3 separate regions of the Homo sapiens genome follow, and regions 2 and 3 are each linked to region 1. The links come from fine-mapping of genetic effects on gene expression. A gene starts in region 1. Each other region holds a variant in brackets. All regions are shown on one strand. Distances are from middle to middle.

Region 1 (5,719 bases):
GGCTGGGCGCGGTGGCTCACGCCTGTAATCCCAGCACTTTGGGAGGCCAAGGCGGGCGGATCACGAGGTCAGGAGTTCGAGACCAGCCTGACCAACATGGTGAAACCCCGTCTCTACTAAAAATACAAAAATTAGCCGGGCGTGGTGGTGCATGCCTATAATCCCAGCTACTTGGGAGCCTGAGGCAGGAGAATCGCTTGAACCCGGGAGGCGGAGGTTGCAGTTAACCGAGATCGCCCCACTGCACTCCAGCTTGGATGACAGAGCGAGACTCCGTCTCAAAAAAAAAAAAAAAAATTAGCTGGGCGTGGTGGTGCATGCCTGTAATCTCAGTTACTCAGGAGGCTAAGGCAGGAGAATCACTTGAACCCAGGAAGCAGAGGTTGCAGTGAGCCGAGATCGTGCCACTGCAGTCCAGCCTAGGTGACAGAGTGAGACTCCATCTTAAAAAAAAAGAAAGAAAGAAAAAGAAAAACCAAGAGAGTGAGAGGAAGAAATTGTGGGTTTCACTAGAAAGTCACAGGAGAGGGCAGAGAAGTGATTGCTGGTTTGGCAAGATTATTATTCATCAGTGGTCTGGTTAAGAGCAGTCCCAAAGACACAGGAGTGACAAACACCAAATTGAATTGAGTTGAATATGGTCTGGGACATGAGGAAGTGGAGTCTGAAGAAAGCCAGATGATTGGCCTTGTTGAGGAGCACAGTAATGGAATCATGCCAAGGGGAGTATATAGGGCCAAAATTCACAAGTAAATATATACATGGGAATTGACGACACAGTATCTGAAACAACCTAGGCAGCCATCAGTTGGGGAAGGGCTGAACAATGCTACATAATATCATGAACCAGTTAAAAAGGATGAGTTAAAAAGATGTTCTTATATATTAATATATGAAAAAACAGAAGCATCAAAACAATACTTCAAAAAAAGTAAAGGGGGGATTTCATCAATGTGAAACCCTGATTGTATTAAAAGTATGAGATTTCTCTGTATTTTTTCTTTAATATTCAGTCTTCATAGACTGTCAAAAATTGCCAATGCCGACTATATTGCAAGTCTTCGGGGCGGGGTATTGGGAAGTTTCCAATTAGCAATATCCACACCTTGGCTAAACCTCATTGGCTATGATACTGCCACTGCAAAAAGCATATTTCTTTTTTTTCAAGAATATTCTTTTTTTTTTTTTTTTTTTGGAGACAGGGTTTCCCTCTGTTGCCCAGGCTGGAGTGCAGTGGCGCGATCTTGGCTCACTGCAACCTCTGCCTTCTGGGTTCCAATGATTCTCCTGCCTCAGCCTCCCAAGTAGGGGACTTACAGGTGCCCGCCACCACGCCCGGCTAATTTTTTGTATTTTAGTAGAGAGGAGGTTTCACCGTGTTACCCAGGGTGGTCTCAAACCCCTGAGCTCAGGCAATCCACCTGCCTCGGCCTCCCAAATTGCTGGGATTACAGGCATGCACCACCATGCCCAGCCCTTTTTTTTTGAGACGGGAATTTCGCTCGTCTCCCAGGCTGGAGTGCAATGGCAGGATCTGGGCTTGCTGCAACCTCCGCCTCCTAGGTTTAAGTGGTTCTCCTGCCTCAGCCTCCCCAGTAGCTAGGATTACAGGCGCGTGTCACCACGCCCGGCTTTTTTTTTTTTTTTCGAGACAGAGTCTCACTCTATTACCCAGGCTGGAGTGCAGTGGTGCGATCTCTGCTCACTGCAACCTCCTCCTCCTGGCTTCAAGTGATTCTCCTGCCTCAGCCTCCCGAGTAGCTGGGACTACAGGCACGCACCACCATGCCTGGCTAACTTTTTGTATTTTTAGTAGAGAGGGGGTTTCACCATGCTGGCCAGGCTGATCTCGAACTCCTGACCTCATGATCTGCCTGCTTCGGCCTCCCAAAGTGCTGGGATTACAGGCGTGAGCCACCGCGCCCAGCCTATTTATTATTTCTTAATGTAAAGTTTAATTAAAAATCCTTCCAGCCGGGCGCAGTGGCTCACGCCTGTAATCCCAACACTTTGGGGGGCCGAGGCAGGCGGATCACCTGAGGTCAGGAGTTCAAGACCAGACTGATCAACAGGGAGAAACCCGGTCTCTACTAAAAATACAAAATTAGCTGGGCGTGGTGGCACATGCCTGTAATCCCAGCTACTTGGGAGGCTGGGGAGGCTGAGGCAGAAGAATCCCTTGAACCCGGGAGGCGGAGGTTGTGGTGAGCCAAGATCGCGCTAATTGCACTCCAGCCTGGGCAAAAAGAGCCAAACTCTGTTAATCAAAAAAAAAAAAAAAAAAAAAAATTCCTTCCAGTATGCATATAATTTGGGGCCTTTTTTTAAAAGCTTTATCATAGGTAGGACCTCTTTTTTTTTTTTTTTTTAACCCAAAGCATTCATACCTTTTACTATCAAAAAGCTATTTTGTATTTTGTAAAAATAAAAGCAGAGGCCGGGCGTGGTAGCTTAAGCCTGTAATCCCAGCACTTTGGGAGGCCGAGGTGGGTGGATAACCTGAGGTCAAGAGTTCGAGACCAGCCTGACCAACATGGTGAAACCCCGTCTCTACTAAAAATACAAAAATTAGATGGGCGTGGTGGCGCACGCCTGCAGTCCCAGCTACTCCGGAGGCTGAGGCAGGATAACCGTTTGAACCCGGGAGGCGGAGGTTGCAGTGAGCCGAGATCGCGCCACTGCACTCCAGCCTGGGAGACAGAGCGAGACTCTGTCTCAGAAAACAAAACTAAACAAAACACAAAAGACAAAACTCAGAGCTGGCGGGGTTGGGGGGACAGGGTGGGGAGAAAGAAAGCGAAATCTGTTCCTTGGCTTCCCGGAGCCAAGGAGGTTTCTCCACTTTCAAGGTCTCCAGGTCCGCCCCCGCCTGTAACCCCCAGCGCCGCCCCTCTGGAAGCCTGGGAGGACTGTGTGTTGCGAACCGGGGCGGCTACTCTCGGCCGCCGCGGAGGTCCGCGTCTTGTTAGCAGGGAAGGTTTACTCCCCCATTGTGGGTGACCAAGGGGCTGAGGGCTTGGCCGGTTTCGCTTTGCTGGGGGCAAGGCACGCTCTCTCTCCCCACCCTTCCGGGTTCCCTCAGACAGTCTCGGCCTTGAGGAACCCCCTTCGCCTCCGGTCCCCCAGCCAACCTTCCTCCGCTCCCCGCGCCCTCCCCGGAGAACCCCACTGTCACTCGCGATGCTCCGAAGACCCGGGAACTAGGCGAGGAAGGCGGTGGCCGCCTTTTTCCAGCTGGGGTGAGTCATTTCCTGCGACAGGCTCCCTCCCCCGGAAGTAGGGCCTGATGTAAACACCCGAGCCGGGCTCCAAGGCCCGGGAGGTCAGAAAACCGGGCCGCGGGCGGCACCGACAGCTGGGGCCCGGGTCAGGGACACGCGGAGGTCAGGCCGGTGAAGGCGGCAGGAAGCTGGAGCACGATCCCAGGGTTGGTTGGGTCTGGGGGAGGCTGGAAGTCTTTCGAGTAGGGGTCTAAGGCAGAGGTCTTGAGTGGGTGCTGGCGTTGGAAGGAGCATGCGGCTGGTCTTGGGAGAGGGGCGAGGCATCCCGGACAGAGTCTTGGAATGGAGGTGCAAAAAAGGGGTGTTGAAAGTTGGAGCTGTCCAGAGAATAACTCTAAGGCAGAGCTGTCCAAAGAAAGAGCATGAGGCATTCCAGTGGAGGGTGTAACTGAAAGAAAGGAAGGAGATTTGGACTCTTGGAGGATGGGGGAGGGAGTATGTCTGGCCAGAGTTATTGGGGAGTTGAGGATTTGAAGGGAAGTTGGGGGCTCTATGGCAGTAATCTTAGTAGGGGACTGCGCAGGCATCTTAGGGGTTGAGGTTCTCCTAGGTAGGAGTTTTGGGTGGTTTGTTTTGGGCAAGGGTCTTAGAAGGCAAGGGTGCCCTGGGGCGGGGTCTTGGATAGGGGTCTAGAGGGGGAATCTTAGGAGGATGGGGGGGGTTCCTGGGGTTGGGTCCAGGCCAGGTTATGTTGTAGTCAAGGACAGCAGAACACAAGGAAGGAGATGTCCCAGGGGTGGAAAATTTAGAGTGCTAGGGGGAATCCTAGGGTAGAGTCCCCAGGGCATAAGCCAATCTAAGGGAATGTCTAGGCTGGCCCTGAAGGGTAGTTACCAAGGCATGAGAAGGGGTCATCCCAAGGTAGGCATCCTGAAGGAGTTTGGGGAAGCCGGTTGAGGGGGAAAGGTGTGAGAGGACTCTGGGGTGGTCAAATAGGTTGGGGTACAGTTAGAAGGGTATGAGCAGAGGAGTTCCTGGGGATGGCAGACCAAGCATAGCAGTCCCAGGGCCAAGTCAGGGAGGTACAAGAAGTGCATCTCCTAGCCCACTTTTGTCTATTTATTGAGAGAGTCCGGTGCTAGGTCAGGTTTGAAGATGAGAAATGGGTTGGGAGTGGTTCCAGGCCATGTCTGGCATTGGGATCAAGATTGGCTGGCGGTGGGGAGGAGATATCACGGGGGCACCCCCTATCACATTACTTCCTGACAAGTCAGTGAGGGCCAGCATGTAAAGAGGAGGTGTGGGGTCCACGTCAGTGTGGGCCTGGAGCTTGCCAAACCTGAAAGAAGGAGGGTTCCTGGCCATGTTGTTTGGGATCTTGGGAGCTTAGAGCAGAGACCCTGGGACTCTCTGTTTTTATCTTTTTCTTCCCCCCGAGACGGAGTCTCGCTCTGTCACCCAGGCTGGAATGCAATGGCTCGATTTCGGCTCACTGCCATCTCAGCCTCTCGGGTTCAAGCAATTCTCCTGCCTCAGCCTCCTGAGTAGCTGGGATTATAGGTGCCCCCCACCACACCCGGCTAACTTTTGTATTTTTATTAGAGACGGGATTTCACCATGTTAGCCAGGCTGATCTCAAACTCCTGACCTCAGGTGATCCACCCGCCTTGGCCTCCCAAAGTGCTGGGATTACAGGCATAAGCCACCACGCCTGGCCTGTTTTTATCTTTTTTGCAGTCACTCCAGAGTCAGTAGTTAGCAGAGTAGGAGGAGGAAATCAGGTGAGGCAGAACTTGGAGGGGAGATTCCAGGACTCTTCTCATCTTTATCCCATTTGTATGCAGAGGAACAATCCTGCACCATGACTCAACAGCCACTTCGAGGAGTGACCAGCCTGCGTTTCAACCAAGACCAAAGTGAGAGAGGATTGGGCCTGTACCCTTGTGGGAGGAAGCGAGGAAAAGAGGGGTCAGAAGTGGGCCATGGGCCCCCAGCTTCCTACCTGGGCATTCTTTAAGGCAGTCTGGATTCCTTCCATCCCCCAGGCTGCTTTTGCTGCGCCATGGAGACAGGTGTGCGCATCTACAACGTGGAGCCCTTGATGGAGAAGGGGCATCTGGGTGAGCTGTTGGCAGGGGAGGGGCAATGGGCAGAAGAGCTGGGCTGGGCGTTGGCTCCCACCTCCACTGACACCCTGGTCCCTGTCCAGACCACGAGCAGGTGGGCAGCATGGGCTTGGTGGAGATGCTGCACCGCTCCAACCTTCTGGCCTTGGTGGGCGGTGGTAGTAGTCCCAAGTTCTCAGAGATCTCAGGTAAGTGCCCTCATCCTGCCCTTTGGCCCAGATTTCTCGGATTCCTGGCCTCCCACAGGCACCCCAAGGTACTGGCAGATGAAGACGTCAGAGTACTTCAGAGTCACACAGAGAGGAGGCCTACAGCTTGGAAGTCATGGATCTTATAGCTTGAGAAGCTTGGTGCTTTGTTTTCATTTTAAAA
Region 2 (5,719 bases), 100 kb before region 1:
TGAGCAGGAACCTCCTGAGCTGCTGCTTTTTTTTTTTTTTTTTTTTTTTGAGACTGAATCTCTGTCACCCAGGCTGGAGTGCAGTGGCGCTATCTCCGCTCACTGCAACCTCCGCCTCCTGGGTTCAAGCGATTCTCCTGCTTCAGCCTCCCATGTACCTGGGATTACAGACGCCCGCCACCGCGCCCGCCTAATTTTTGTATTTTTAGTAGAGACAAGGTTTCACCATGTTGGCCAGGCTGGTCTCGAACTCCTGACCTCAGGTGATCCGCCCACCTCGGCCTCCCAAAGTGCTGGGATTATAGGCGTGAGCCACCGAGCCTGGCCGACCTCCTCAGCTTCTAAAGGACACAGTACCTTGGAGGAATGTGCACGGAGGGATGGAGTCCTACACTCCTGGGATGCCGAAATGCTGAGAGTCAAGAGACTGGGATTTGGGGGGACAAGGCTTCCAGGGTTCCGCCTGAGCAAGGGAGTTTTTGACTTCTTAGATAGGAGGTTCTTTCACTTCCTTTGGAGTGGGTCTCTGACCTGGGAATGTGGGGTCTGGGTTTGATGGTCCGGAGAAGGAATAAATAGCCCTAGGATGGGATGGGTAAAGGCCAAGGTTTCTTGGGATGGGGGTTTCTGAATGGAGCAGGGGCCTCCTGAGATCCTGGGGAGGGTCCCCAGTTCCTTGGGTATCAGGGCATGAGGCCAGGGTTTAGGGGAGGAGCTCCTGAGCTTCTGAAGAGAGGGGCAGGGTTCACGTGGGGATCTCAAGGAAGAATGCGGTCTCGTCTCCTACCCTGTGGAACTGGAGTGCTGCTGGCGGCGTAGATGGAGAGGGAACCGGGATGAGGCCGGGGAGAGGATGCCCAGAGTAGGGGTTCTGTGCTCTAGTGGGGAGAGTACAATGAATTATAGGGGAGGTGCTTGAGCCCTGGAAGGATCTAAGGCTGGTGGGAGGTGTCTGAGGCTAGGGGCGGACGGGGAGGGGGGTCCGAGGCCAGCCTAGGAAGGGGAATTCCCTGAAAAGGGGACATATAAGGAGGTGGCTCCAACTGCCCCGCCTCTGCCTCGGTTGTGTCCCGCTCCCCCGCACTCTGGGCGCTGTCCCAGCCTGCCCAGCGCTGCCCAGGTAAGACAGGCCCCAGCGTGCGGTCGCGGGCAATGAAGTGGAGGGGCGGGCGTTGACTTCTCCTTCCCTGCTTCCGCGCCTCACCCGGCCCTGCATCTGCCCCCGCCCACTGCAGCCTCCAGAGGCAGAGGACCCAGACCGGGGCCAGCCCTGCAACTCCTGTAGGGAGCAGTGCCCTGGCTTCCTGCTCCACGGCTGGAGGTAAGTGGCGCCCCTAAAGGGCCTCGCCTTTGTCAGAGCTCCGCCTTCGGGGGGAAATCCAGGAGCCTTACGCCACGCCCCTACGCTTGAGCTCCGCCTACAGAGGGATCTCAGTTGGGAAAAGAGCCTCAGGCTCAGATTCAGAGCCCCGCCCCCTGACTCATTCCCCAAAGTCCTTTCCCAGGAGAGCTCCACCCACTACGCAGCCCCGCCCCCAGAAGTGTTCTCCCGTAGCCGCGGAGTCGCATCCCTAGGGAGATTCTTCGTCTCTAACTCTGAGCGCCGCCCTCTGGCCTCCAGCACCCCTCTTAGACTCAGACCTACTCTCCCAGGCCCAGCGTCCTATCCTCCTGCTGGAGCCCTGCACCCAATAAACAGAGCCTACAGCCCCCAGACTCAGGCCCTACCCACAGGCTCAGAGCCCACAAGTTCAGAGCCTCACCACAGGTTAGATGCCTGTGTCTAGTGAAAGTTCCCCCACAAAGCATCCCACTCCCCACGACCTGTCCTCTGGCTCACAGCCCAGCCACACCCTGGCTCATAGGCCCACCTCCTGCAGCCCTGCCCCCAGGCCCAGATCCCTGTCCCTGCTCACAGACCTTTGGTGGTGATAATCTGTATGTCCCCGCTCCTCCATTGGACCTGGGCTGCCGAGGGGTTCGGGTGGGCAACTCCTTAGTAATTGACCCCCATCCCGGCCCCCTCAGAAAGATCTGCCAGCATTGCAAATGCCCGCGGGAGGAGCATGCAGTGCACGCGGTGCCTGTGGACCTGGAACGCATCATGTGTCGGCTAATCTCGGACTTCCAGCGCCACTCCATCTCCGACGACGACTCAGGCTGTGCATCGGAGGAGTATGCCTGGGTGCCCCCAGGCCTTAAGCCGGAGCAGGTGACCAGAGGCCAGCCCTCCACTCTTGCTGTCCAGTGGGTGCACACTAATGCTCACACACACACACACACACTCAGGTGGGAACCTATTTCTGGGGCTACGCTAGAGTGTGCAGTCAGACCGAGGGTCCTTCTGGCCCCTCTGTGATGGAAGAGTGGTCAGCCCCCCATACCTTGGGTGACTGAGGGACCAGTTCCTCAGGGCCTGTTCACCCCAATCCTATTATTTTTGATTGATTGTTTTTGAGACAGGGTCTCACTCTGTTGCCCACCACAGCCTCCCTTGTAGCTGGGACTGCAGGTGCATGCCACCCTGCCTGGCTATTTTTAAAATTTTTTTGTAGAGACAGGGTCTCCCTATGTTGCCCAGGCTGATGTTGAACTCCTGGGCTCAAGTGATCCTGCCTCGGCCTCCCAAAGTGCTGGGATTACAAGAGCAAGCCACCATGCGTGGCCCCACTCCCTATTCTACCCTCCCAGCACTTCATTCACCACATGACTTCATTGATTGACTCATTCAACACATAGTTATGGGGCACCTACTGCATGTGAGACACTGTTCTAGGCACTGAGGACACAGCAATGAGCAAAACACAAAATAACATATCTGCCCACGGGCACGGTGGCTCACGCCTGTAATCCCAGCACTTCGGGAGGCTGAGGCGGGCGGATT[A/G]CTTGAGGTCAGGAGTTTGAGACCAACCTGGCCAACATGGCAAAACCCCGTCTCTACTAAAAGTACAAAAATTAGCCAGGTGTGGTGGTGCACACCTGTAATCCTAGCTACTCAGGAGGCTGAGGCAGGAGAATTGTTTGAACCCAGGAAGCGGAGGTTGCAGTGAGCTGAGATCGTGCCACTGCACTCCAGCCTGGGCAACAGAGTGATACTTCTCAAAAAAAAAAAAAAAAAAATCTGCCCAGGCAGAGGGTAGATTCTGGAAAGGAGGAACACCCAATAAGCAAACCTGTAAATATATGTCAGATGGTGTAAGGGCTATGGAATTAAAAAGCAAGGAAGGTGGGGTGAAGAAAGAGAGAGGGAAGGAGAGAGATGCTAGAATTGTAAATAGGGTGCCCAGAATAAGCCTCTGTGAGAATTTAATGGTTGAGCTGCCCGAAAGGAGGTGAGAAGTGAGCCATGCAGACATCTAAGGTTACAGCGATTCACACAGGCAAAGGGCATGGCTAATGCCAAGGCCCTGAGGCAGGCGTGTGCTTGGCATATGTAAGGGATGGCAAGGCCAGTGCTGCTGGCGCAGAGTGAGCAAGGGGGAGACCAGCTGGAGATGAGGTCAGAGATGTGGCAGGGGCTATGGAGAGGACTTTGGCTTTGCCTGTGAATGAAGGGAAGTCGCAAGAGGGTTGTCAGCAGAAGACAGCCTGGAGGAATAAGGGTGGAATCAGGAGACCAGTGAGGAACCTGATGATGATGGCACTGGCAGTGCAAGGAGTTATATATATATGGAGAGAGAGACAGACAGACAGACAGAAAGGCCGGCATGGTGGCTCACACCTGTAATCCCAGCACTTTGGGAGGCCGAGGCGAGTGGATCACTTGAGGTCAGGAGTTTGAGACCAGCCTGGCCAACATAGTGAAACCCCATCTCTACTAAAAATACAAAAATTAGTCTGGCATGGTGGCAAATGTCTGTAATCCCAGCTACTCGGGAGGCTGAGCCACAAGAATTCCTTGAACCCAGGAGGCAGAGGTTGCAGTGAGCTGAGATTGCACCACTGCACTCCAGCCTGGGCGACAGAGCAAGACCCTGTCTCAAAAAAAAAAAAAATAGGCTGGGTGCAGTGGTTCACGCCTGTAATCCCACCACTTTGGGAAGCCTAGGCAGGCAGATCGCCTGAGGTCGGGAGTTTGAGACCAGCCTGACCAACATGGAGAAACCCCGTCTCTACTAAAAATACAAAAAAATTAGCCAGGCGTGGTGGCACATGCCTGTAATCCCAGCTACTTGGAAGGCTGAAGCAGGAGAAGCGCTTGAACCCGGGAGGCGGAGGTTTCGGTGAGCCCAGATCATGCCATTGCACTGCAGCCTGGGCAACAAGAGCAAAATTCCGTTTAATAAATAATTATTTAATATATATATATGTGTGTGTATATATATATACACATATATATATACGTATATAGATACACGCGTATATATATACGTATATATACGTGTATATATATACACATATACGTATATATATACACATATATACGTATATATACACATATATATACACATATGTATACATCTATATACATATATATAAAATAATTATTTTACGTATATAATTTACGTAAATAATATACGTATAATAATTATACGTGTATATATATATATATATATACACACACACATATATATATATGGGGGGGGGTCTCACTCTGTCTCCCAGGTTTGAGTGCAGTGGCTCAATCACAGCTCACTGCAGCCTCAACTTCCTGAGCTCAAGTGATCCTCCCACCTCAGCCTCCCAAGTAGCTGGGACTACAGGCACGCATCATCACGCCTGGATGATTTTTGTATTTTTTGTAGAGATGGGGTTTTGCCATGTTGCCCAGGGTGGTCTTGGACTCCTGGGCTCAAGCTATCTTCCCCTCTGGGCCTCCTAAAGTGCTGGGATTACAGGTGTGATCCACAGCACCCAGCCTATATTTTGGAAGTAGCACTCAGAGGATTTGCTTGTGGGGGTGGGAGAAAGAGGAGTGAAAGATGACCCTGAGGATAGGTAGATTAACTGATGTGGGAGAGGCCAAGACAGGAGCAGTTTGAGGGGTAAGAGCATAAGTTTGGTTGTGGCCATCTGGAGTTTGAGATGCCTGTTAGACATCTAAATAGCCACATTGCCTGGAACTCAAGGGATAAGTTACAGAGCTGGACGTATGTGTTTGTCATTATGTGTCACAGGCTGGAGGTGACACATTAGCCAGCCAAGTAGATGATATTTACAGCCATAAGGTTGAATGTAATTCCCAAGAAATTGAATGTAGACAGAGGCAAGAGGACCAAGAGCTGAGTCCTAGGATCCTCCTGCATTTAGGGGTCAGCTAGTTGAGGAGGAGCCAAAACAGGGACAAAGAAGGAGCAGCCAATAAGGTGGAAGGAAAACCTGGACTGTGTGGTGTCCTGGAAGCCAAGGGAAGAAAGTGTTTCCAGGAAGAGAGAGTGGTCAGCTCGGTGCAGTGCTACCATCATCAAGTCTGATGACGACTGAGACCTGAACAATGATTTTAACAATGGGGAAGTCATGGATGACCTTGACAGCTTTGGAAGAGGGATGGGAGCGGAAGCCTGCCTCAAGTAGGCTCAAGAGAGATTGGAAGGACAGGAAGTGGAGTGAACACAAGTGCTCATAACTTTTTGAGGAATTTTCCTGTAAAGGGAAAAAGAAAAGTGGATCAGTAGACTGGGCGCGGTGGCTCACACCTGTAATCCCAGCACTTTGGGAGGCCAAGGCAGGCGGATCACTTGAGGTCAGGAGTTCGAGACCAGCCTGGCCAACATGGTGA
Region 3 (5,719 bases), 22 kb after region 1:
TTCAGCAGCATCACCAGCACCCTGAACATGGCTGTACACACAAGTGCTCAATGAATGGGTGCCAGCTGAATGAATAAAAGATAGAGTAAGTAAATGAGGAGGCGGTGGAGCCAGGGTTCAAGCTCAGATCTGTGGGTCTGTGCTTGTCCCAACTCCATTCTGTAGCTCTAGTGTAGCAAGGAGAATGTTCACTTGACCCAGGGTCCCTCCAGCCCCTCTTGCCATGACAGCCTGTCCTGAGCCTAGTGTAGGGAAGTCCTCCTGCTGGGATTTGTGAGAAGCAAAGTCCACAGCTGCAAATAACGAACCACCTGCCTCCTGCCTCCTTCTCTGCCCCCGATGGCTCAGCTGACCATGGAACCTGCCTTGGCTGGCCACCCCTCCTCTGGAGTTTGCTCCCTTCCTTCCACATCATGCTCAGTCCCCAGCTGGGCAGCTGAGTGACATCACCTCCCACCACCTGGCCTAACCTAGGTGGCAGGTGACTGGGAGGGCTTTATGGGGCCACAGAGCTCCATTATCACCTACCTTGAAGTCGGCAGCTTGTCATGACATGTTAGCCTGGTGTGAGGAAGACCCAGCCAACCAAGGAGGCATGGGTTCAAGCCCCTTCCCCATCTGTGTATTGTGGGGTGAGGCCAAGCTGCTTGTAAGGTGTCATGTTTCTCTGCAGTCCTCCTGCCTGCCCCATAGGGCCTGTACCCCTCTCTTGAAGCAGTGGTGCCCTGCCTTCAACAGCAGGGGTGGGGATCAGTCCCTAAAGCCTTTTGACAAACCCAGGCCCCACATCCCCACTCATCTAAGGTCTGACACTTCCCAGCATGGCAGGGGTTCCTCCACATCCCAGATCACTGGGGCTCCAACTTTCCCAGCCCCCATTTAGGCCCAAGGAACTCTCACAGGGTTCCCTGGAACCTTCCTTTACCCCCACAGGAACCCAACTCCATCCACGGTCCCCCTTGCCAGCATTGGTCCCAATCCAATCCCAATTCCATGCTGGGCTGCTTCGATTCTTTTTTTTTTTTTTTTTTTTTTTTTTTTGGAGATAGGGCCTGGCTCTGTCACTTAGGCTGGAATGCAGTGGTGGCACGATCTTGGCTCACTGCAGCCTCCACTTCCCAGGTTCAAGCAATTCTCCCACTTCAGCCTCCAAAGTAGCTGGGATTACAGGTGCACGCCACCATGCCTGGCTACTTTTGTATTTTTAGTAGAAATTGGGTTTCACCATGTTGGCCAGGCTGGTCTCGAACTCCTGACCTCAGGTGATCCACCCGCCTCGGCCTCCCAAAGTGCTGGGATTACATGCGTGAGGCACTGCACCCAGCCAATCCTTTCTTCTCTAATTTCTCAGAGCGTCCTGGAAGTCCAGACAGGGTCCACACAGGAACCCCAACTCCTCCCTATCAGCCCGACCTCGGGGGGACATAGTTAGAGTATGAGTCATGGGGTCACTGGGCAGGCTAGACACAGTCAACGCCCCACACCCCCACACCCAGTTCCTAAGCTTCTGCCTCCGCTCACCTGCCCTCTGCATACTTGCCTTGGGGCCTGGAGCTGCCTCATCCCCGCCCAGATGGCGAGAAAGGGATCCCAGCAAACCCCTCCCCAGCACACCCCCACACCAACCCCAGGTCTCCCCCTACCAGTGACCCCATGGCCCCCATCCTGTCCCAGGGACCAGCTGCAGCGGGAGAGCAGTAGAGGGCACCCCCCACACCCAGAGGCGGGCCCGGCAGGTTTTTCAGGTCTGCCATTCTGACACCACAGCCGAGAAAGAAATTCCTGGCTGTAATAACTGTTTACAACCAAGATACCTCACCTGGGTGGCACCCCAACAGTTGGGGGGTCATTTCCACATCCTGCCACTATTAGAGCAAATACAAAATCTCAATGTCTGGGCCATTACCCTCCCCAGAGCCCCTGCTTCCTCCACTGCAGTGAACAAATCAGGCATAGGCAGGCAGGTGCCTGAGTAATGGTTTCTTAGTAGCCCAGTCTGGTCTTTCTTGGAGAGCTGGGCCCTGGGTTGGGGGAGGACAGAGGCTACTCCTGGCGGGGAGGAAAGGAAGCAGGGATAGGGTGGAGAAGGGGGGACTCATACTTCTCTTTTCCCCGATCCCTCCTCGTCCATTTCCGGCCGGGAATCGGCTTGGTGCCAGGAAAGGAAATTGGTGTTTTGGGCTTTGCCCCTGTCCTCAGGCCCTCCATTCTCACTGCCCCCCTACCCCCCCACCACCACCCTGCCCTGCATTGTTGGTGTGCCTCTCCCACAGACCTAGCTCTCTACCGAAGGGAACTTCAGTACACCCTGCCCCAGCTCCCCAATGCCCTTATCCCCCTCGCACCCTGGGCCCACTGCTCCCAGGTGCTCACCAATGCCAGAGAGTGCTGTGGGGTAGCCTCAGATACCTCAAAAATAGTTGTCTCGACCAGGCCCTGGCTCCGGCTGGTAGTGGCAGTCAGCAGCAGTGGCAGATGCCTTGGCCACCTCCCACTAGGTAATGGCCCAGCCTACCTGGCCAGGAACTGGGCCGGCCCACACCTTTTAACCCTTGCCTGTCTGCCACCAGGACTAGGGTCACCCCTGGGGGCAGTTTCAGGGCCAGGTCCACTCAGGGTGCTCAGCATGTCTAAGAAGACAGCCTGGGCCAGGCAGGGTAGCTGGTGCCTGTAATCTCAGCACTTTGGGAGGCTGAGGTGGGAGGATTGCTTGAAGCCAAGAGTTCAAGGCCAGACTGTGCAACATAATGAGACCCCCATCTCTACAAAAATTTTTTTTAAAACTGGCCAGGCATGGAGGCCTGTGCCTCCTCACCCCGTACACTTAGCAGAAAACTGGGAAGAAGGGCTGAGAGTGGTGGGAGTAGCAGCTGCCTCTCCTACTGCCCAAATTCCCAGAGGATTAGACGCTGCCCACCCAAGGGGCAACTTGGATCTGGGCCATAGAGGTGTGGGGAGCTGTAAAGTACATGGGAGGCTTCGGGTGTAAACTGAGTTTTTGTGTCTTGGCACTAAGCATCACATTCTGAGGCCCCTACCCTTTCCTCCCAGGGCAAGGCAGTGGTAGAAGGCCTTGGGGCAATTCCCACCCTCACTGGGGAATAATAGTTTCCCAAGTTGGGGACAGAGGAAGTCAACCTTTCTAAGGAGAGGTCAGGTCTCAAGATCCTTCTGTGGCTCCAGAAGAAATAATCTCAATAAATCAAGCACAACTTACACCCTACAAAACACTTATGGGTTTTGATCCCTCTTGGTTCCTACAAATGTAGCAGGATGGCACAGACCCAGCCTCCTCACAGCCATTTTATAGATGCAGAAGCTGAGGCCTGGAAAGGTGAAGAGGCCTGATTCAGATCACAGTGGCAGAAGAGCAGGTGAAATCAGAATTTCCGGGGGCTGGGTCCTGGCTGGGAGGCAGACAGAGGCTACTCCTGCAAGTGGGAAGGAGAAGTAGGGAAGGGGGCTCATGCTTCTTCACATCCATGCTGGGTCTCTCTTCTTCAGAGAGTCAGGCTTCATGCCAGAGAAGGAA[A/G]TGAGAGCTTTGAGTCCTTACGACGTACTGTCCCTGCCTCCCCTCACCCCGCCCACCACCACCACCATCACCACCACCACCATCACCACTACCACCTGAGCTCTGGGCCAGTCCCGGCACACAGCACACATCCTGTGCTCCATTCAGGACCATCTGCTCTGTGACCCAGGGCCCAAGCCCTACCCAGACCCCTGCAGCAGCCCACACCATGACCTGAAGTGAGAAAAGCTGCAGATGGGCTGAGCCTAGAGAGGAGCTCACTCTGAATCAGCAATGCCCCAGACTCATACTATTAAGGCCTCCCGCCATCCCTGCCCACCTTTCTTCCTGGGTGTGAGATTTCCAGCATGGAACACAAAGGCCCCTTTCATCGCCCTCCCCACTTCACTGCCTGGGGCGGGCAGTGGTAAGGTGGGCATTGGGGAGTGTCCTCTCGGCCACAGCCTCTCCCACCTCTTATGGGCCACCAAAGATGTTGGGAAGTGAGACAGTAATAAAATCAGAGCCAAGAGGGATGAGAATCTGGCTGGCAATGTAGATTGAGTCTCAAAGCTTAGGTCTCCTCATCTGTAAAATGGGTAAAAGGTGGTTACAGAGACAATGGAGGCCCCAAATAACTTTGAAAGGCATTTCAAAGTGCAAGGAAACACACCATGTCATTAATGACTCTTACTAACAACAATTAATACACTCACACAGAGGTGGGCTGTTGTGGGGGTAACTGGGGGAGAGCAGGTAACTGGACCTCCTGGGCCAGGCAGACAAATGGGGCAGTCACTAACACACATCATTGCCCTGGTCCATGACTTTTAATAGCCTCGAAGAGGACCCAACCTCTAAGCCCTACCCCAGCTGGGCCCTGGGCCTCACGTGACCCTGCTGTCACTAGTAAATGGTGAGTCTGGGATTCAACCCAGCTCTGCCACTTACTAGCTGTGTGACTGCTTGAACAAGTCACTTAACCTCTCTGTGCCTCTCTGTCAATTGGGGACGATGATAACAGTATGTACCTCACGGGGCTATTGTGAGCATTAAATCAGTTAATACATTTAAAGCTTGTGCAGAACAGTGCCTGGTAAGAGCTCAGTGTATGTTGGCTGTCACAGTTACAAGTATTCTTCCCCACAGGAAGTCAGGAATCAAGTAGATACATTCAGACACATTTTTTCCAGACAGAGCTGGTGTCCTTCAGTCTCACTTGATACATTTGAAACAGTTGTTTTTCCTCAGATAACTTGTCTGAACTCTTGCTATCCAAAATCAGAGACTAAATGTATTCAGACGCAATTTTTTTTTTTTTTTTTTTTTTTTGAGACGGAGTCTCACCCTGTCACCCAGGCTGGAGTGCAGTGGCATGATCTCGGCTCACTGCAACCTCCACCACCCGGGTTCAAGCAGTTCCCTGCTTCAGCCTCCCGAGTAGCTGGGATTACAGGTGCGTGCCACCACACCCAGCTAATTTTTGTATTTTTAGTAGAGACGGGGTTTCACCATCTTGGCCAGGGTGGGCTCGAACTCCTGACCTCGTGATCCACCCGCCTCAGCCTCCCAAAGTGCTGGGATTACAGGCGTGAGCCACCGCGCCCGGCCTCAGATGCATTTTTGAGACAGAACTGGTATCCCTCAGCTTCCAAATCCCACTTGCTATCTAGACACGGTACCCTCCCTGCTCACCAAATGAGACATATTTGAAACAGAGCTGTTTCCCTCATGATCCAACCTCTCCTTTCTCAACATCAAAAATGCAGGAACCAAATACATTCAGAGAAATTGTCTGAACTCTCACCATCCAAATGCAAGAACTGAATGGATTCAGAAACATTTTTGAGATACGACTGGTATCCCTCATTCTTGAACTTTCCTTACCCTCCAAACAAAATGCAGGAACCATTTACATAACAGGGTACCCTCACTATCCCAACTCTTGTCCCTGGAGCTCAGGAAAGTTCATAGATTTGGATACATTTTTTAGTTAGTCATTATTCTTCATTATCTCAATTTTCCCTACTCACTATGTAAGATGTGAAAACAAAATACCTTCAAATAACTTGGTAGGTTTCACTGTCTGAACTTCGGGCACTCTCCCTCTCAGAATTCAGGTACCAAATAGATTGGGAAAGTGAGGAATGCTTGTTTTGTTATCAATAGGTTTGGATAGATTTTCAGGATAAGATAGGTCTGGCATCT

Evidence for each region. PIP is the estimated chance that this variant, and not a neighbour inherited with it, causes the effect.
Region 2: its variant is the best candidate, but not a certain one, in a credible set for the expression of WDR45 in esophagus muscle (GTEx, PIP 0.83).
Region 3: its variant is the best candidate, but not a certain one, in a credible set for the expression of WDR45 in blood mononuclear cells (TOPMed, PIP 0.55).

The regions. Positions count from the first base shown.
Region 1 is chrX:49,077,459-49,083,177 of GRCh38, reverse strand. WDR45 (WD repeat domain 45) reads left to right here and starts at 3,291. Exons shown (of 11, transcript NM_001029896.2): 1 at 3,291-3,427; 2 at 5,066-5,137; 3 at 5,267-5,341; 4 at 5,431-5,535. The coding sequence starts at 5,083. It also overlaps the pseudogene RNU4-52P. RefSeq lists silencers at 2,522-2,591, 2,834-3,128 and enhancers at 2,834-3,128, 2,840-3,340, 4,790-5,719.
Region 2 is chrX:49,180,227-49,185,945 of GRCh38, reverse strand. It overlaps PRICKLE3 (prickle planar cell polarity protein 3), which reads left to right. Exons shown (of 9, transcript NM_006150.5): 2 at 1,236-1,321; 3 at 2,029-2,212. Among named protein-coding and RNA genes, the nearest start is that of PRICKLE3, 3.3 kb to the left of the region's middle. RefSeq lists a silencer at 1,352-1,565 and a cis regulatory region at 1,174-1,674. The variant A/G (reference allele first, on the strand shown) is at 2,885.
Region 3 is chrX:49,055,750-49,061,468 of GRCh38, reverse strand. CCDC120 (coiled-coil domain containing 120) reads right to left here and starts at 2,470. Exons shown (of 11, transcript NM_001163321.4): 1 at 2,374-2,470. The variant A/G (reference allele first, on the strand shown) is at 3,533.